Homo sapiens: one gene and its partners. The protein of the gene in region 1 interacts with the protein of each later gene in a biochemical or structural test. Each region holds a gene or a part of one and is shown in the gene's direction. Other genes may lie near its edges. The genes, in order: SREBF1, TWIST2 and MED13.

Region 1 (7,109 bases):
GGGCTGCCCTGACCACCTCATCTATAATGGCCCCAGTGCCTGGCACAGGATTGGCACACAGTAGATATTGTCAGAGATGGATCTGGGTTCTGTGGACAAGGCTGTGGGGGCAGGTGAAGAGCTCCCTCTTCCAGGAGGTTGTTTGGGGTTCAAGGCCTTGTTTGGGTTGTAGGCTTCTGTGCTGGTCAGCGTTGGGCCCTACAAGCGCATGCCATGAGGCCTGCCCAGGATTTCCCTCATGGCCTCACAGAATACATCGGCCAGAGTCATTAAAGGGCGCCTGCATCTGCCTTCAGAGAGAGGTTTGAAGGTAGAACTGGGGAGGGATGCCAGGTGGGGGTTCAGGTTTCCTGTTGGGTCCTGATAGAATCAGGGCAGGAGAGGAAGAAGAAGAGGGAAGAGGAGGAACCCAGGCTTGGGGAGGGGTGGCAGGGCTTCACAAGCCTGGGGAAGGTGAACTAGGGAGCAGTTGGGGCCACCATGGCCCAGAGTCTATGCCTCCTCTTCCTTCCTGTGTTCAGAGTGTGTGTGGGAACCACAAGGGCCTTCTCAGTGTTCATAGGGAAGCCCGGTTCACCCATGGGTGGGCCGCAATTTGGGTGCCACAGTGAGCCCCTAGAGACCAGCTCTCCCAGCTTCCAGGACAGGGACTAGGGGAGGCAAGAGAGGCTCTTCCTTAAATTGTGCACCCAAGGTGCCTCAGCTGCCTTACTCTAGACTGGCCCCGTTAACTCCCCTTAAAAAAAAAAAAAAAAAGACTCAGTCGAATGGTAATGGAGCTCCAACGTGAATACTGCAAGTATCAGGCAACTCACTACCTGACTTTCCAGTTCTAAACCATTCTAATTGCTGTAGAGAGAACTAACCTTTGTTGAGACTGTTGAGTGATGGATGTTTTACACACTTGCTTTCCCAGAATTCCCACCTCTGGAGATCGTAGGTGTGGGAGCTCAGAGGGTGGGGAGTGGACTGTCCCCATCACACAGCAAGGGAGGGGCTAAAGGAAGAGCAGGGCCTGGCATGCAGCCCCAGATAGCCCACTTGGGTGTGTCTCTGAGGGAGGCTGCAGGGCTGGCTCTAGAGTTTCCTTTTTCAGTCTTAACCTGGTGACCAGCTTCCACAGAAATTGGCACGGTGACTCATGCCTGTAATCGCAACACATTGGGAGGCCGAGGTGGGAGGATCACCTGAGGTCAGGAGTTCGAGACCAGCCTGGCCAACGTGGTGAAACCCTGTCTCTACTAAAAATACAAAAATTACATTTCATTACAGGTGTGGTGGCGCACACCTGTAATCCCAGCTACTCAGGAGGCTGAGGCAGGAGAGTCACTTGAACCCGGGAGGTAGAGGTTGCAGTGAGCTGAGATCGTGTCACTGCACTCCAGCCTGGGTGACAGAGCCAGACTCTGTCTCAAAAAAAAAAAAAAAAAAAAAAGAAATTGGCCAGTAGATCAGCCCCAGGGGAGAGTGAGCCAGGGTTTGGCCAGGCCTTGAGTTTCAGAGGCTGGCCATGGCCAGTGGCACCCAGGCCCTTCCCCCTTCCTCGGGGCATCTTAGCTTAGTCTGTGCCCTCTGCCCAAGGGCCAGCCCTCTGTTCCCAGGTCACACCCCCTCCTCTTGGAAGGCCCCCCCCGCCCCACCCCCATCAGAGTCTTTAATGACTCTGCTGCCCCTGGGGCTCAGAGAGCAACCGCCCTCTCCCATCGCGCTTCCTCAGTGGGATGGGAGGGGGTTAGAGCAGGAAGATGAGACAAATAAAGACACAATAAGAGGCAGGAATATGTGGTAAAGCCAAGATGGGTAAGGGGAGGGGACAGGCTTGACTGTTCACAGTGGCCCTGGCCCTGCTGTCTCAGGCTAGTATCTGCTTGTTGGTCTCACCACATTCTAGGCTCAGAAACTGGGGAGCAAAGTAATGAAAGAACCAGGCTGGGAGGCCATGGGGAACTCATGCCTGGAGTTCAGCTCTCAGTGTGCTTTTGGGTCAAGGACGCTTCCCTGTCTTAAGTCACTCATGTCAGAGCCTTTGCCAAGAGCAATGCTGTGTTTTGTTTTGGGGGTGAGGGAACACCCGCGGGCTGAGGGGAGGGTTGGGCCATGCTAGAGAGGCCGTCTGTTGTCCTTGAACCTCCCAAAGCTGGGAAATAAGGGCCTGGGCTGGACGGCGGTGGCGAGGACAGGTTGCGAGAGAGACATGGCTGGGTTTTCTTGCTTAGGGTCCTGAATAGAGAGCAAGGTTGAGGCCGCAGGGACCCCAGCCCCCAATGGACTGCTGAGTCGCTGGGTCTGCCCAGGGTTCAGGCACCCTCTCAGGTTGCAGCCAACTGGGGTGTGGACCAGGCAGAGGCGCTGGCCTGCAGTTTGGGGCAGAGGCAGGCTTTGCTGGTGGTCTACTTGGCTGCAAAATCAACTGGCCAGGCTCTGATCACTTTGTGTGTGTGTGTGTGTGTAACTTTTACCTTTGACAAAAGAGGGAAGACAGGCCCAGGCACCTCCTCAAAAGAACCCTAGAGCCTGTCACCCCTTCCTTACCCATCTTCTGTCCTAGGGACTGCAGCCCTTCCTGGCTTCCCAGGGCCCTACAATGAATAGTGGGTCGGGACTCACTTGGTGACTGCTGGGTTGTGAGGCCTTGAGGGGGAGGGGCAGACTTCACCCATCTGGCAGAGGGACATCGGTGCTGGCAGTCAGGAAACCCTTATTTCCAGGCCTCAGTTTCCCGGAAGTGACCTGTTTTCAGGAGTGGCCTCATCCCAGACCATCAGCCCCGCTGTGGTGAGGGGTGGCCCCTTCCTGGGGCTGCCCTAGAAGGGGGAGGTCCCTGCACCCACCGCAGCTGCCACTCGGCAGCCCTTGGCCTTAATTAAACGCTTCTTGCGTACTAAGTGCTGCACCCATATTATCTCCCTTCTACCATTCGACGCCAGGGAGATAATGACTGTCCTGTTTTCTGGAGGAGTAAACGGAGGGTTGGAGCGGTTAAGGCTCGCTCAGGGTGCCAGCGAACCAGTGATTTCGAACACAGAGTTCTGGTGTGTTGGGCCAGGACTTCTCTGCTTTGACCCTTTAACGAAGGGGGCGGGAGCTGAGGGCCAGTGACCGCCAGTAACCCCGGCAGACGCTGGCACCGAGCGGGTTAAAGGCGGACGTCCGCTAGTAACCCCAACCCCATTCAGCGCCGCGGGGTGAAACTCGAGCCCCCGCCGCCGTGGGGAGGTGGGGCGGGGGCCGGGGCCGGGCCCTAGCGAGGCGGCAGCGCGGCCGCTGATTGGCCGCGCGCGCTCACCCCATGCCCGGCCCGCAGCCCCGAAGGGCGGGGCGGGGCGGGACCTGCAGGCGGGGCGGGGCTGGGGCGGGGCTGGGGGCGGGGCGGGGCGGGGCGGGCGCGCCGCAGCGCTCAACGGCTTCAAAAATCCGCCGCGCCTTGACAGGTGAAGTCGGCGCGGGGAGGGGTAGGGCCAACGGCCTGGACGCCCCAAGGGCGGGCGCAGATCGCGGAGCCATGGATTGCACTTTCGAAGGTATTTTTGGAGGCCTCCCCACCAGCCCTTTATACAATGCCTCCGTCTCCTGCAGGTTCTCCTGGGGTGGGCGGGCATGCGGGCTACGCAACTTGAGCAGGAAAGAGCCCCTTCCCGAGGGAGAAGGTGTGACAGTTACCAGCTCGCTGGGGAAGTGGAGGGCTACCTCCAACCAAATTAGTGTCCCCTGCAACTCAAGGGGGAAGGGTTTGCTTAGAGACCCAAAAGCAGCATCCCGACCTAAGAGGGTTTGGAGGGAGAGGGTGGTCTTCTCTACATTCTCTGCACCCGCTTTGGGACAGGACCAGGAGGAAGCAGGGAGGAGGGCCCGTTGTCCCTCTGCCACAGCGTCTGCCCTATTCAGCACCCCTGCCTATTGTGGGCATCTTAGACTTTTCAGGAAGACAGTGGGAGCCCTAGATTGTCAAAATTGTCAGTTTTTCTTTCAGGCCTCAGTTTCCCCCATCTATCGAAGAGGCTCACACGGACTGGGGTAAAGGGATGGGAAACCCTGCAGTTGAAAGTCCATTATGACTTGATGACTTGTGACCTGGGGGGTCCACAAACCAGGAGAGTTTCTACTTGAGAAGCCAGGAAGACTGGGGCTGCCACCCCATCCTGTTCTGCCAACTGCTCTAGGAAATTCCCCTCCTGCAGTAGCTTCCCTGCCTGGGTACCTGTCAGTAGGCAATGTTGGGTCTCCACTCGGTGCCAGCTGCCTGCCAAGCAAAGCCTCGGGCAGCCGTACCAAAAGGGGTTTAGTCTTTTCTGTTGTACAGATGAGGAAACTGGGGCCAGTGAGAGGAGGCTGTTGGTCCAGGCTCCACTTCAAGCTGGTGGTGGGCAGGGCTGGGAGCTCAGGCTGGGGATCCTGAGAGCACTGGAGGCCCCCATGGGTCCTGTAGAGCATTCTGACCCAGTGGGTGCCACCACGAGTGGGTTAGAGGGCCCTGGGCTGAGCCAGATAGGCTGCTAGTCACCAGCTGGGGGAGAGGGCCCTTGGCCAGGTGGGGCTGAGGTGGGAGTGTGTCCCAGTCTGTATGAGGAGGAAGGAGTCAGGACAGACAGCACTTGCTTTTACAGAGATGAAATCAAAGCCCTGAGTGGCCAGGCCTGGGTCTTGAGGCTACTTGGCTGCAGGCAAAGCCTGGACTTGAGCCCAGAACTCTACACAGAGACACACTGGTTGGCCATGTGGCCAGCAGCTGGCTTGGCCCTAAGCCTTGGTCTGTTCCACTGAGTAATGGGTTGGTGATGGCAGCCTGGCTCTTGGCTTCTTAGTGGGGCAAGAAAAGGCAGAGAGACAATAGATTTGGGATTTTGTAGACCTGGGTTTGAACCCCACTGCATGCTCTTGGGCTGCTTGTGGTCCTCCCTGAGCCTCAGTGTCTTTTCTTGTCTCCAAGATGAGGTGAGCTAATCTTTTGAGGTAGTCTAGGGTAGTGGCCAGTGGTTGGGGCATTGGAGTCAAAATAGGGTCTGGACTCAGTTGAGTCTCTGACTCTATAAGAACTTAGGCCAGTAAGTCACCTCTCTACAGCTCAGTTTCTTCACGTGTAGAATGGGGCCAATGATCACATCACCCTCTCAGCTGTGGGTGAGGATTAGGGGTCTAGCCTGGCCCCATCAATGTGGGTAGCCCCACAGCGGGCCTGGCTTTTGGACCAGACCCACCCTTCTGACATGGGCCCCCACCCTTAGAGTCCTTCTAGTGTGGATGAGGACCCTGCTCTGATCTGGGGTCCTCTTGGGGGACTTCCCTGTCTGCCATTCTCTTTGGGGATCCTGCGCTGCCCTAGGAAGAGTGGGCCCAGGCTGCACAGTTGGTCCTTGGTCACAGAGGATCCCACCACTTCTTCAGGGCCTCAAGGCAATCCTGCCTCTCTCTGCACCCCTCTTCCCCCTGTAAACTGAGGGGAGGGGAAAATCACCCACTCCTCAGCAGTTTCTAAGTTGCTTTGTCAAATTCAGTGCCCAGAGGATCCTGCTGGGGGTGCGTTTTAGGATGAGACCAGGAGTGGCCAATGGTGGGGTGTGGGGCCCATCGCTCCTATATGAAGACCCCCTCTGCCCTAGACTGCTCCTCCCTCCCCATCCCCATCTCCATCCCAAAGACTGGAGCTGCTGGATCTGTGGATGGAGGCGTGCCCCCCGTTTCACACATTGAGAAACAGGCCCCAAGTGGAGCCAGGGAAGGCTGCACCTGGGCCTCTGGATTCCTTTTGTTCTGTGTGGGGTTGGGGGTGATGGACTGTGGAGAGGGCAGGAGAGCTGTCTGGAAGGGTTGGTCACCTCATGGGCAAATGCTTGGAAGCTGGTCTGAGTCCACGGTGCAGTGTGTATGTGTGTGTGTGTGTGTGTGTGTATGTGTGTGGACTCAGAGGTGGATGTCTTGTAGAATGCATGCCCCATGAAGACAGGAGTAAAAGTTTACCACCATCCACATCAAGCTACAGGACACTCCCAGCTCCCCAGAAAGTTGCTTAGTTCTAGGCAGGGATTTCCCTTATTCACAGCCGGGAGCAGTGCCTGGCATAGTGTGGGCACTCAGCACTCAGCACATGCTCACTGGATGAGTGAATGAATGTGAGCCTGCTGTTTGCTGTGGACTAAGGATGTTTCTAGATGTTTGGGCAAATACCGGATGGTGGGAAGAGCTCAGGCTCTGAAGTCTGCAGTCTTGGGCCCGACCCTGGGCTCAGCCCCAGCCTAGCTGTGGGGCAAGATTGTGAGCCTTGTGGTGCCCACCTTGTCCAGGTATTGTGATGCACTCGCAGCAGCAGGCATTGCTTTAGACAGCACAGGTGCTCGCAAAATGGCTGTATGTCCGGGAACACCAGCTCCTGTGGGTGGCTTTCTGTCCTGGTGGCATTGCCCACACATACAGCTGTGTGCCAACAAGGGTTGTGCAAATAAGGTTGTGTTTGGATGTGTGTGATGCCCTGTTTGGGGGTCAGTCTCTGCCTCACTCACGCACCCTCTTCTCCTTTTCACAGACATGCTTCAGCTTATCAACAACCAAGACAGTGACTTCCCTGGCCTATTTGACCCACCCTATGCTGGGAGTGGGGCAGGGGGCACAGACCCTGCCAGCCCCGATACCAGCTCCCCAGGCAGCTTGTCTCCACCTCCTGCCACATTGAGCTCCTCTCTTGAAGCCTTCCTGAGCGGGCCGCAGGCAGCGCCCTCACCCCTGTCCCCTCCCCAGCCTGCACCCACTCCATTGAAGATGTACCCGTCCATGCCCGCTTTCTCCCCTGGGCCTGGTATCAAGGAAGAGTCAGTGCCACTGAGCATCCTGCAGACCCCCACCCCACAGCCCCTGCCAGGGGCCCTCCTGCCACAGAGCTTCCCAGCCCCAGCCCCACCGCAGTTCAGCTCCACCCCTGTGTTAGGCTACCCCAGCCCTCCGGGAGGCTTCTCTACAGGTAAGGGGGATGTGTGGCGGGAGGGGACACCCGGGGTGGGGCTTCCAGGAGCACAGGAAGAAGCTTCTGCTGTGATGTGAGTAGAGGTCTGTGCAGGCTTTAGAAACTGGGGCTCCACTCGGCTGCTTGAGATGCCCTGTTACTAGCAGTCCTGGTGTGC
Region 2 (7,109 bases), on another chromosome or scaffold:
TAAAAACAGTGCCAAGAGCTTGTTTGGAAAAAAGCCCTTGAAAATATAATAGATAATTACACAGTTAGTGGGAGAGCTGATGATCTATAAGGAGCCTATTTATTTTTATTTTTACATACTGGACTATAACTGAGTAGTTCAAACAAGCTAGTTTCATTAAATAGATACTCTAAAAGAAGAGAAAAGAAATATGGAAAAATTTTATCCATGAATGATTCTGGACACACCTTGTTTTTATTTATCAGGCACGTTAGGCAGACATCTTGTCATTCTTTTTGTCTTTAACTCATTATTCCCTATAAGATCAATACGATTATAATTGGTTTGATTTCCTGAAAATGTTGCTAAACAGCATTTGTTTTTATTTGTAGCATTTCTAAGAAGCATTAATTATATGCATCAGCAAAGAATCTCTAGACATTTCAGTACATTGTAAGTGATTTTAATGTTTGATGTGGGATGTTTTCACGTATGTGAAGAAAACTGTCAAGACTAACAGCAACAGCAGCACAAAGCCTAAATTGTCCTCTGAAAGGAAGAGAAACGCAAGAGATGGTGGAGTGCGGGTGCTGCCGATATCTATCCTGCCTTTCTTCTTTGGCCTGGTATTTAAAAGCACAATTAGACAATAAATCAGGTGTCTTTGTCCAGTCAGTTGGATTCATCTAATAGAAAAATCTCAAAAGGATTTTTTTAGTATTCTCATTAAATGCCTGAGTCTTCGGAGCAGGGTCCCAGACACCTGGCTTGGAGGGTGGGGGAAGGTGACCATTACTTATCAGACATTTGTCCTGTTCCCTGCTGTGTGGTTAAAGAAAACATCTTCTCTAACTTCTGCATAGTGTGCACAGATTTTCAGTAGATTTCCTCACTCAACAAACTTTTTTTTTTCTGAGAACTTTTAGCTACTTTGAAGAAATTGCATGACCCCTTCACCATCTAATATATGTGAGCCTTTTCCTCCCTCCTGAAAATTTACTTCTCATAGGTGTTTGTTAACTGCTGTATTCAGGATGCTAGAAAATCAGTTCTTCGTGGAGAAGAACAGAAATGCAGAATCCCAATGGAGCTTTTGCTTGCCTAGAAGAAGTAGAATGAAAGGCTGAGCTCCCTGGAATATAAGCAATGTTTGGTTACAAAATACCCATCAATAAGATCTGATGTAGGGATTTGACCTGTTAATGTGGGTCTTTCCCCTTAAATATCAGCAGTCCTTTCGGCCTTGCATCAGGGAAGTCTTGCTACTCATCTTGCTGGAGAGGGAATTCCTCAGACTTCAGTGGCTCTTTGAGGCCATTTGAGATAGAATACTTCACTGAGGTTTCCTGAAACTCATATTTTCATACAGATCTTGAGCTGAACCATGTTCTTGTCATCCTTGCTTCACTCTGTTCTGGGTAGACGGCACAGATGCCGGATTCCTTTTGCCTGGCAAAAAAATTTAAAAAAAGAAAAAAAAACACCACACACATAAAGTAAACTCTTTCTGAGCAGAGCACTATAACTCATAACTTTAGTTTAAATCTGGGCTTTAAAAAAAACAAATATTTTAATAAGCCAATTTTAAAGGCTGAACTTTTATGACGGTTTTTAAGCTTAGTATTTATATTAATCTATTCTCACTGGTGTCTTTAAAAACCCTGTGAATGCATGCTGGAATGTCTGTTTATGTTTGTGTCTTTTCCTGGGAAAGGATAAATGTGCTGCAAAAAGCAAACCAAATACAGAACTCTCCGCTAGCAGAGAGTTCACAAATGAGGCAATAAAATTCAAAGAAGAGATGAATAAGTTACTGTAGCCAAGGACTGGAAAACCATAAAGGAGAAACAGAATCTAAGAGATACAGACATGGATGCTTTCAAACGTAAAGGCAAGATGAAACACTACAAACAGAAACTGATTAAAAAGATATTCCACATGGTCACCTGAGTCTACACGTGATAAAATTGCATAGCACTAAACACACACACACACACGCACATGCACGTGCACACACATGTACACACGAGTGTATGTAAAACTGGTGAAATCTGAATGAGGTCTGGGGACGATATTGACGCCAGTTTCCTGATTATGATAATTGCAAGATGTCATCACTGGGAGAAGGGAGTGAAGATATGAGAATCTCTGTATAATATTTCTTGCAACCTCATGTGAATCTATAATTATCTCAAAATTAAAATAAAAAAGATATTCTACAAAAGTATTAAATCTATATATTTAGATAAGCAAATTATCTAAGAAATTACTACTAAGATTTATCTCAGAGTAATAAACTAAAAATGTGACTTGAGCAAAACTCCACATATTTTTTCTGACGCCATTTGAGGAATCTCAATATATTTCCAATATATAACTAATTAGAAGTGGTTCCCTGTAAGTCTTAAATAAAGAATAGTATCCCAGAAATATGAAAGGTGAAATACCAATTATAATAGCAATACATTTATTCCTATACTAATAAAGAAAATATTTTACACAAAATTTTGGGAAATATCTACCTTAAACTGATACCTGTGTTATATTTGCTTTTTAAGATACTAATTTTATATTAACTTTCATTAAGCATACACACACAATTCTAAAGCCAATGATTTATAAAAATTATTCGCCAAGAAGTATAGAGATTGAAGTTTTAGTATTTGGAGCCATAAGCAGTGAGAGGGAGAGGATATAGCAGAGGAGGGAGGGAGAGAGAGAGAGAGAGAGAGGGAGAGAGGGAGAGATGGAGAGAGAGAAGGAGAGAGGGAGAGATGGAGAGAGAGAGAGAGAGAGAGAGAGAGAGAGAAACTCAAACCCTAAGCCCAGTTATAGTTATTTTTAATGAATAATTGTTTAGAAACATATTTTCTGTTTTTGTTTGGTAGTAACCCTTTGGATGAGATTGAGTGATATTAAACTATGCCTTACCTGAATGCTGATTTGGAAATGAGGGCGGTAGCATTAACAAGGTGAATTTTAAGCTCTTGTAAACTGAGGCACAGTGTGATTTCTCTTCAGCGATTATTAATGGTTGTCACTTCGAAAAGAGACTTGGATCTGAAATTGGAAAAGCCAACACATAACTTGATTCCAGCATGAGGAAAATGTTTTAGTGCTTAGTTAAAAATAGAGTCATTTTGAACCCAAACGGTATCTGACGTGCTTCAGATATCTGGGCTATTTCATCCTCAACTGTGGTGTGATAATATGATGATCCTGTGGTGATGAAGATGAGAGAGCGCGGCTGCGTGAGCTGAGTGCAGTGTCTGCTTGTCTACCGGGGCTGTCCCTCACTGAGCGGTTTTCTATCCTAATATTGTTTTCCTCTGTTATTTGACCAGGGAAAGATTCAGATGACCCAGCTTCTGTCGAAGCCTCATGGAGAACTATAGTTTTACTTCTCAGACCCGAAGAGCAGTGCCTTTAAACTTGGACACATCTCTCCTTTCTTTAGTTCAGATTTTCCCTTCACTGAAATGAAAGACAGGGTTGAACTCAGAAGAGCTTTCGGTTATCACATTCGATTATCCTGGAAAATACTCCTGTCTTTTTAGTTCACATTCTGCCTTAAAAAAATAGCCATCAGTATCTTCTGGGAGGAAATGGTAAATTTTGTTATGTGGTCTGGCATTAGAGTCCTAATTCTCACTGTCTAATTTGACAGACGGTTCACCTCTGTGTCTCTGGATGTGCAGGTCTGGTGTGCGACTGACGGGAAAGATTTGGGCAAACCCCTTGATTTGTATTAACCCTTCGACCTTGACTAAACATCAGACCCCACCCTGTGGCTGAGGTCTGTGGTGTGGTCACAGGCAGAGTCTTTCCGGAGCACCAGGCAGAGCAGCTCCCCCCAGGAGGGGTTAGGGCAACTTTTTGGCCTTTTGCTGTGAGAGGGGAGGGTTAGAGATCCTTTTGCTCTCTTCCCCGTGGAGAAAAAAATGTTGAAACTTTCGTCGTTACTACTGTTTTTCTGTCGCTATCCAGACAAAATGCCACCCTAGCATTTCTGTTAAATCTCTGTAAGTAGATGCCCCTGCTGAAGGGTGGAGAGATTTTGGCCCGCTTCCGAGGCAGGGGCTCCATGAGGGACAGCTTGGAGCATGAACAACCTCCTAAAGGAAAGCACAGGCCAGTCATGTACAATCTCGGGCTCTGCTGCCACGGCAGCTTTCTTTGTCTGTTCTACTTTGAATTAGCATATTCTGTATGTGAAAATGCAAGCAGGCAGCGTTTTCTTTGAATCACGAGATCTACAAGTACCGTTTCCTTTCCTTCATCTCTGCTCTTTGAGTGGTTCGTGTGGCCGGTGCTCAGAGGGCTCGGAGTGGCAAGCTGGCTGCCTGCGTGGACTCCCTGGACCTGCGACTTGTCCTTTACTTCCACAACTCAGACTTTTAGCTCGGCGGAAGAGTGCACAGGCGCAGCGCAAGCTAGCTAGCCTGCAGGGTTGGCAAAACCTATACCGACTGGGTCCCTTCCGGAAAGTTTGTGTGAACTTTAAATCTCAGTCTCAGGGAGACTGTTTTGTCTTGATACATAACAGAATAAGGCAGTTATCATTTCTTTGGGAAATGCCTAAAATACCGCAAATTGGAAGGGAAGGGAAAGGAAGGAGGAGAAGGCATACTCCTCTTTCTCAAATCGGGCATCTACACGTCTCTGTTCACATCATTGACACCAATGGGCGAACAGTGTCTTCATTGAGGATTAATTTTCCTGAAATCAAATAATCCCAAATTGCATACTACATATATACTGGTTTCTAACTAGTCAACATCTTCAACATATGCCCAGCCGCCTGGCTTTCCTCTCGTTCATGATAATCTGCATGCGTAGATGGGAAGCTAGGAGAGAAAGATGTGATCATTTCGCATTCCTTGTTTTCTGTCTGGTGAACATTTCTTCTCCAGCAAGTGTTTCCTACCGCTTCCCCCAAACCTGCATATACTCTTCTATATTCTTTAGTTGAAACAGCATCTTTTAAAAACATGATTAACTGAAGTCCGCTTGAGGTTTCACTTTATAAAAAAGTAATAGAGGAAGAACGAGAAGCCCACCATCAGGTCCCGTGATAGCTCAGTCACACGTGGAAATACAGACTGTAAATACAGAATGGCCGAGGACCCTCTGAGCAAAGGTCATCTAGGGGCTCCCGAAGCCTCGTGCGGCCCATAGATGTGTGCTCAGCACCCCCGCCTCAGTGTGTGCTTGGCGACTCCCTCTCCTTCGTGGGCTCATGTTACTATTTTCTAAAAGTATTGTTTCACTGATACCAGAACAGGAGTGCTCCAAACAGATATCTGTACCCTAAGAATCCCAGGGTGCCCTGTTTTTGTTGATTTCTCTGGTGCAGAAGGACCTGTTTCCACGATCCCCAAACTCCCTGGGGGCCGTGCGGTGGCTGTGGCAGAGGGGGTGCATCCAGGACTGGCGTTTTATGGCCCCCGAGGTAGGGTCAGGAGAGAGCTTATCTTGAGGTCCCGTCTTGTGTGACTGCGAAGGTGTTAATAGGCAGGGTCCAGGTGGCCCATGCGAGCTGGCAGCATTGGAAGGGTAGAATTAATTGAAGGGCATTTTACTGGGTGTTAAATTATTGCTAATTCCAAAACTTTCTTTCAGACTATTTTTTTCTGAGAATAGAGATTTCCTTCTAATTAAACAACAGGCAAAAGATGAGCACGGTTACTCACCTCTCTGCTCGTTTCAGTGTTGCTGTATGTCATCTCCTTTCTTGTTTTACTACAGTTCACAAGTGAATAATATCATGTAATTTCAGTGTGGAACAATGTAATTTCCATGTGCGTCCCCAGCAACCCTGTGTACATTAGTCTATCATTTATAATTTATAACATGGAAAAGTTTTTTTTTTATGAAGGACAAAATAAAAGAGAAGGTTAGGATGTGAATAGGTCAAGTGATATATGAAGAATTTCACAAGGGATCAGGGCTACGGAAGGGACTCAGGTCTCTTAAGAATAGGTCCCATTCTGTATTTATCTTCAGGATTGTGTTGGGGCCGTGTGCCTCTCTCTGCTGCTGGCCATGGGAGACCCGGCACCTCTTCCTCAGTGTCCCTCAGAGACATAGAAGACAGCAGTTTCTCAGAAAAAGCACCCTTCCTGCCGTTCTCAGAAAAACAACACTGTGAAAATCCAGCAGGGCCCCTCCACACTGCTGCAATAGTGCCACGAGGGAGGCCGCTGCAGACACAGTCACTTGAAGAGGACCTCAGGTGCCTTCCCTTCCTGTTTGGTCCCAGGCATCAACACTGCCCAGCAAAGTGTGTCCAAGAAGCCCCAGAGGGGGCCGTGTCTCTGAGGGGCCTGTGACAATCGCAGGTGATTCAGATGCCAGAGAAAGCAGAGGCCCCCAGAGGAAGGTGGTCAGGGGGCCATCTGCTGTGCCTGGGGTCAAGGACCACTGGAGGGAGCTTGGGTTGGCCTGAGACTGTTCAGGGGAGGGGCACCATGGGCATGGTGCCCCTGCATGACGGGCGGGCCCTCCCATGAGAGAGGAAGAGGGGAGCAAGAGGAAGGACGCTGCTGGCTGTTTGCAAGTAGCTGTCCCACCACCCTGGCACTTCCCTGGTCCCTGAGGCTGGACGGGCCTTGGAGCCCATCTTCGCTAAGGCCCAAGTCACCTATCAGCTCGTGCTGATGAATGTCTGAGCATGAGCCCAGCACGGCTCAGCATTTGCCAAGGTTAAGGAAAGGAAGTGGTAACTCAGCATTGATTTCCTCCCCCTGGATTTAATAGCGATAGATCTAAACCTGCAGTCAGATATCACTTTGAAAGCCTTGGCTCATCTAAAGACAGCTTCCAAGAGACGATCAGGCCAGGCCACTGCTGCGGTTTGCAGAGGAAGCAGGACCAGCCCTGTCTTTGCTGAAAGAAGCCAAACGACCATCTTGTCTGTCTCGTAAAGCATCCTTCTGCTTGAATAGCAGAGCTCTTTGAACGGCAATAAAATATTACATTGAGGCTGGGCGCAGTGGCTCATGCCTGTCATCCCAGCATTTTGGGAGGCCAAGGTGGGTGGATTACCTGAGGCCAGGAGTTCGAGACCAGCCTGACCAACATAGTGAAACTCCATCTCTACTAAAAATACAAAAATTAGCCACGTGTGG
Region 3 (7,109 bases), about 44 Mb from region 1:
ATGAGCCGAGATCGCGCCATTGTACTCCAGCCTAGGCAACAAAAGCGAAACTCCATCTCAAAAAAAAAAAAAAAAAAGTAGATATTTATTTATTTATTTCTGTACCTTAACTGATTTTGGAGATCATTTCTATCTGCACATATAGAGATTATCTTTTTTTATGGCTATATGTATTCCATTGTTCCTTACATATGATAATATATTTTACCAGTGCAGTGTTTATGAACATACAAATTGTTACCACCATTATCATTACAGCTACTTTTCAGTAATGCACAGATCCCTGGCTTTAAAGCATGGGTGTATTTTTATTTTATTTATTATTATTATTTTTGAGATTTGTTCTGTCACCCTGGCTGGAGTACAGTGGCACAATCATGGCTCACTGCAGCCATAACCTCCTGGGTCCAAGTGATCCTCTCACCTCAGCCTGCCAAGTAGCTGGTACTACAGGTGCTCACCACCACACCCAGCTAATTTTTGTATATTTTGTAGAGATGAGGTTTTGCCATGTTGCCCAGGCTGGTCTCCAACTCCTGGGCCCTAGTGATCTGCCCAACTCACCCTCCCAAAGGGCTAGGATTATAAGCACCCAGACGTGTATTTCAAGAAAAAAAAAAAAAAAACCTAAATAACTATCTGTAATGCCTTTTTTTTTTTTTTTTTTTTTTTTGAGACAGTCTCACTCTCTTGCCCAGACTGGAGTGCAGTGGCATGATCTTAGCTCACTGCACCCTCTGCCTCCCAGGTTCAAGCAGTTCTCATGCATCAGCCTCACGAGTAGCTGGGATTACAGGCATGCATTAACCACACCTGGCTAATTTTTGTATTTTTACTAGAGATGGGATTTTGCCATCTTGCCCAGTCTGTTCTTGAACTGCTTGCCTCAAGTGATCCACCTACCTAGGCCTCCCAAAGTGCTGAGATTACAGGCGTGAGCCACCATGCCCAGCCCCTGTAATATCAGTTTGAATTCCCACCAGTTAAAGTGCCTGTTTTCCCAAAGCCTTGCCTAGTAGGATGCTGATTCAGTGGATGAAAAATGGTTATTTCCCATTATAGTTTGAGAGATTAAATAGTACAGACTGTGGGGATAGATTTCTTGGGTTTAAATTCCTACTCTGCTACTTCTTGTGAAATGCTAGAGAAATTGCTTAACTTCCTCATTTATGTTTTCTCATCTCTAAAATGAAGTTAATAATAGTTTCTGCCTTATGTTTTTTGTGAGGATTAAATGAGTTAGTACATGCAAAGAGCTTTGAACAGTACCTAGCACATAGAATTATCATTGTTTGCTATTATTAATTTTAAATTGCTTTTTTAATGAGAAAGAGCATCTTTTTATGTGTTAGAGATAGTTTTGTTTTGTAATCTCCATGTTCTTAACCCATTTTTCTATTAGGTTGTTGGTCATTTTCTTTTAAAAATTTTTTTATTATGGTAAGAACACTCACCAGGCATGACGACTCACGCCTGTAATCCCAGCACTTTGGGAGGCCGAGGTGGGCAGATCACTTGAGGTCAGGAGTTTGAAACCAGCCTGGCCAACATGGTGAAACCCCATCTCTACCAAAAATTCAAAAATTATCCCGGTATGGTGATGTGTGCCTATAATCCCAGCTACTCAGGAGGCTGAGGTGAGATAATTGCTTGAACCCAGGAGGTGGAGGTTGGAGTGAGTGGAGATCGCACCACTGCACTGCAGCCTAGGCAACAGAGCAAGACTGTCTCAAAAACAAAACAAAAAAAAACTAAAAGAAAGAACACTTAACATGAGATCTGCGCTCTTAGTAAGGTTTTTTCTTTTTTCTATTTTTTAAATTATATTATTTTTAAATGTATAAATAAGGATGGTGTCTCACTATGTTGCCTAGGCCTCAAACTCCTGGGCTCAAGTAATCCTCCCACCTCAGTCTCCCAAGGTGCTGAGATTACAGGCATGAGCCACAGCACCTGGCCTACAGTGTATTTTTATGCCAATTTTTTGTTTGTTTGTTTTTGAGATGGAGTTTTGCTCTTTTTGCCTGGGCTGACGTGCACTGGTGCAATCTCAGCTCACCGCAACCTCCACCCCCTGGGTTCAAGCAATTCTGCTTCAGCCTCCTGAGTAGCTGGGATTACAGGCATGCACCACCATGCCCGGCTAATTTTGTATTTTTAATAGAGACAGGCTTTCTCCATGTTGGTCAGGCTGGTCTTAAACTCCCAGCCTCAGGTGATCTGCCCACCTCGGCCTCCCAAAGTGCTGAAATTACAGGTGTGAGCCACTGCACCCAGCCCCATGCCAAAAATTTAAATGCAGACCAGACGTGGTGGCTCCTGCACGTAATCCCAGCACTTTGGGAGGCTGAGGAAGGAGGATCACTTGAGCTCAGGAGTTTGAGTCCACCCTGGGCAACACAGCAAGATCCCATCTCTACAAAAACTTTAAAAATTAGCTAAGCATAGTGGCACACACCTGTAGTCCCAGCTATTCGGGAAGCTGAGGACAGAGGATTGCTTGAGCCCAGCAGGTTAATGCTGCAGTAAGGCGTGATTGTTCCACTGCAGTCTAATCTGGGCAATAGAGCAAGACCCTGTCTCAAAAAAATAAGTAAATAAAAAGACTTGTTTAGGAAATTCCTTAATGTTGAAAAGTCTTGACCACTGGCATTAAGTATTTTTGTCTCTAATAAAATATTTTCACTAATAATGACTTCATTAACTTTTGACATTTAAATAAAAAGGAGGCCGGGCATGGTGGCTCACACCTGTAATCCCAGCACTTTGGGAGGCCGAGGTGGGCGGACACAAGGTCAGGAGCTCGAGACCATCCTGGCTAACACGGTGAAACCTCGTCTCTACTAAAAAATACAAAAAATTAGCCAGGCGTGGTGGCAGGCACTTGCAGTCCCAGCTACTCAGGAGGCTGAGGCAGGAAAATGGCGTGAACGCGGGAGGCGGAGCTTGCAGTGAGCCGAGATGGCGCCACTGCACTCCAGTCTGGGCGACAGAGCGAGACTCTGTCTCAAAAAATAAATAAATAAATAAATAAATAAAAAGGAGACATGTCTTGTTTTTAAGTGTTTTCTTAAAATACATCTTTCTTATTTAGGAACTGATGAATCCCCAGAACCACTGCCAATCCCCACATTTTTGTTGGGTTATGATTATGATTATCTGGTGCTTTCTCCATTTGCTCTTCCTTATTGGGAGAGACTTATGCTGGAACCCTATGGATCTCAAAGAGATATAGCCTATGTTGTACTGTGTCCAGAAAATGAAGCCTTGTTAAATGGAGCAAAAAGCTTTTTTAGAGATCTTACTGCAATATATGAGGTAGGTGTTTAAAAAGAGATGACATTTTAAAACTACCTTACGATTTGTATTGTTGTATATACAGCATACTGGGCAGTTCAGTTGATTGGGACACAGTGATGATGTCAGATTAGATGTTTATTTCTCATACTAGCCAGTTACATTCTTTGCTGAGTTTGACCCAGTCTGTTAGATGTGTATGCCGTGGGTCAGAGTGGCTATCCCCCTATAGGAGGAAGAAACATTGAGGGCATATAGATATATATCCCTTTTAATGTGGCTTTTTCTAAAACAAAGGGTAACAATGTTAAATAGCCAGGAAAAAAGTTACATTTACAAAAATTCTAGTCTTTATTCTCTAGGATTTCAGGTAGTGACACTAGGCCTCACTTTCCTCATATGTAAAATAAATCTATGCTAGATATCACTAAGGTCCATTTCAGGTCTGAAATTCTTGCCTCTTCTTTTAAGTTATAATTCTCACATATCCATCACCAGGCGCAATAATTGTAAATTATAAGTGTTATGGGACATAAAGTCTTACTTTATTATTCCCTCCTTTTTCCACAAAGGCTTCGAAATTTAGTCTTTAAATTTTGATTCCTTATACAATCTGAATGTTAGTGTATGTTAGTTTAGCTTCCTTTTAAAATTTTCCACATAATTACAAGGTATTTGTAGTGTGTTTTTAATAAATAAACATTTCCCAAAGGGTGTTATTTGGAATATCAGTCCGGTAAAATCCTCTCAGAGAAAAAGTTCCATAGTTAAATAGGCTTGGGGAAACATTGTATATTATATTACCTTTTAGAGATTTACAATTCATATTAGGTTTTTAAAGGCTTTGAAATTCTTACAGTAAAGAACTCTTCTAAGTTTGCTTAATCCAATGTTTTAAATTTATTTAACATTGGGCTTCTAATAACAAAAATCAGTGACTCACAGAACTAGAGGGAGAAGGTGTATAAATATATTTGTATAACAATTTTTATTTTGCTTTGATTTAGGGATATTTGTATTCATAATTCATGAATTGGTGTTAATGTATACCTAAAATGACTGCATTTTTATGCTCACTTATGTCTGCATTCTGCAAGCTTTTATTCAAACAAAATGGTTCTAGTACTATTGTTATCTAGGTGTTTTTTCATTAGAGATATTTTAATTTTGAAAAAAAATTAATGAATTTCTAATGTAAAAATGAAAAAGACCTATGGCACCATTTCACCCTTGATATGTTTATTTTTTTGGCCTACTTCTAAAAACACCCTTGATATTTTTATCATAACTGTTAATTGCAAATGGTTAAGCTTATTTTAAGTAGCTTTCATGGTTGGTTTTATAATGTGTATCTAAATACAATAATAAATTTACTAATTCTGCTTTCTGTATGTATATTTGTAGTCCTGTCGATTAGGTCAACATAGACCTGTTTCTCGACTGTTAACAGATGGGATCATGAGAGTTGGATCTACTGCATCAAAGAAACTATCAGAAAAGTTGGTAGCAGAATGGTTTTCTCAGGCAGCTGACGGTAACAATGAAGCATTTTCTAAACTCAAGCTTTATGCACAAGTCTGCAGATATGACCTAGGTATTGAATTTGTATTTATTGTATAAGGCTGGTGTTAGCAAAATGTGGCCTGCTCCACCAGCTGTTTTTGTAGATAAAATTTTATTGGAACACAGCCATCCTCATTTATGTATTTTCTCTGGCTGCTTTTGTGCTACAACATTGGAGCTGAGTAGTTTTCATAGAGACTGTGTGGCTGCAAAGACAAAAATATTTATTATCTGACCCTTTACAGAACAAGTTTGCTGATCCCTAATGAGGGATCCCATCAGGTAGGAAGAAATTATGGGTTATAAATAAATTTTCTGTTGCCTCTGTAGGGTCTGATGTTTTAATAACTTGAAGATTCTTCATTTGTTACAGTTTAGAGATAAAATAATTTATAGTTAATCTCTACCAAACCAAGAAATAGTTCTTTGTTGTAGCTAAGAAAACGACAGCTGTTTAAGACTTGCTTGTTACATACTTTTTTTCTTTCATTCTACCCGTGCCTAACTGTATTGCTTATAAATACTCTTGAAAATAAAGATCAGTGGACTTCCTTTAGACTTAATCCAAAGAGATGCAGAACCAAAATATTGAATCTCATTAGACATTCCTATAATTTGAACCCCATAACATTATACCATTTTATATTTTAATTAGCTGTCAATGTAGTCAATATTTATTTGATTTGTGATTTAGAAACCCTTTGAATAGTTTGATGAATATTGCTAGATACCTTTTTTACATTTAATTATACTTAGAAAATAGAATTTTGTTACACTTTCATAGTAATCATTTCTTTAATTTTGAGTGAAAATTCTGGCTTTTTCAATTCCATTTTAAATATGTTTCTTCAGTCTCTAGGGGAAAATAGAAAGCAAGTGTAGGTCACACCATTAGCAAGCAATTTCGGGGCTATAATTACCAAGAAAACATCAACTGGATTATGATTCTGTTTACACAGTAGAATTTAAAAAAACCAGTCAGTGAAATAAAGAATTAAATTTCGTACCTGTTTTTATTCTTTAGGTCCTTATCTTGCTTCCCTGCCATTGGACAGCTCTCTACTTTCCCAGCCAAATTTAGTTGCCCCTACAAGTCAGTCTTTGATTACTCCACCTCAGATGACAAATACTGGAAATGCTAATACTCCATCTGCCACCTTAGCATCTGCAGCGAGCAGCACTATGACAGTGACTTCAGGTGTTGCCATATCTACTTCAGTTGCCACAGCTAATTCAACTTTGACCACAGCTTCAACTTCATCTTCATCATCCTCCAACTTGAATAGTGGAGTATCATCAAATAAACTACCTTCGTTTCCACCCTTTGGCAGTATGAACAGTAATGCTGCAGGATCCATGTCTACACAAGCAAATACAGTTCAGAGTGGTCAGCTAGGAGGGCAACAGACATCAGCTCTACAGACAGCTGGGATTTCTGGAGAATCATCTTCACTTCCCACTCAGCCGCATCCTGATGTGTCTGAAAGGTACCTTTAAAAATACTGATTTTTGCAGAAATATAAAAACTATGATGCTGCTTCTTTCTTTTTTTTTCTTGAGACACAGTCTCACTCTTTTGCGCAGGCTGTACTGCAGTGGTGGGATCTGCACTCACTGCAACCTCTGCCTCCCGAGTTCAAGTGATTCTCCTCCCTCAGCCTCCCTAGTAGCTGGAATTACAGGCATGTGCCACCACGCCTGGCTAATTTTTGTATTTTTAGTAGAGACAGGGTTTTGCCATGTTGACCAGGCTGGTCTCAAACTTCTGACCTCAGGTGATCCACCCACCATGGCTTCCCAAAGTGCTGGGATTACAGACGTGAGCCACCACGCCCAGCCATGCTGCTTTTTTTCTAAATAAGACGTTTTGAATGAGCATAAAGTGCTTTTTTATCTTAGTCTTGAAATTTTAGTTTGTATCTTTTTTTAAGACAAGGTCTCACTCTGTCACCCAGGCTGGAGTATAGTGGCGTGATCACGGCTCACTGCAGCCTCGACCTCCTGGGCTCAGGTGATCCTCCCACCTCAGCCTCCTGAGTAGCTGGGACTTACAGGCATGCACCACCATGCCCAGCTACTTTTTTGTAGAGATGTGGTTTCACCCTGTTGCCCTGGCTGGTCTGGAACTCTTGGACTCAGCAATCTGCCTGCCTCAGCCTCCCAAAGTGCTGGGATTACAGGCATGAGCTATCGCACCCGGCCTAGTGTTGAATATTTTATGTATAAAATTATAATGAGGACTTTACTTC

The links.
Region 2: the proteins of SREBF1 (region 1) and TWIST2 form a complex in vitro, tested with the Homo sapiens proteins (one study listed by BioGRID).
Region 3: the proteins of SREBF1 (region 1) and MED13 form a complex in vitro, tested with the Homo sapiens proteins (one study listed by BioGRID).

What each region holds. Positions count from the first base shown.
Region 1 is NC_000017.11:17,819,930-17,827,038, reverse strand, and holds part of SREBF1 (sterol regulatory element-binding protein 1), read left to right. Parts: intron 1-3,408; exon of another isoform or gene 3,409-3,431; coding exon of another isoform or gene 3,432-3,521; intron 3,522-6,517; coding exon 6,518-6,949; intron 6,950-7,109.
Region 2 is NC_000002.12:238,850,693-238,857,801, forward strand, and holds part of TWIST2 (twist-related protein 2), read left to right. Parts: intron 1-371; exon of another isoform or gene 372-7,109. UniProt on the Homo sapiens protein: Binds to the E-box consensus sequence 5'-CANNTG-3' as a heterodimer and inhibits transcriptional activation by MYOD1, MYOG, MEF2A and MEF2C. Also represses expression of pro-inflammatory cytokines such as TNFA and IL1B.
Region 3 is NC_000017.11:61,964,244-61,971,352, reverse strand, and holds part of MED13 (mediator of RNA polymerase II transcription subunit 13), read left to right. Parts: intron 1-3,094; coding exon 3,095-3,318; intron 3,319-4,701; coding exon 4,702-4,891; intron 4,892-5,884; coding exon 5,885-6,347; intron 6,348-7,109. UniProt on the Homo sapiens protein: Component of the Mediator complex, a coactivator involved in the regulated transcription of nearly all RNA polymerase II-dependent genes.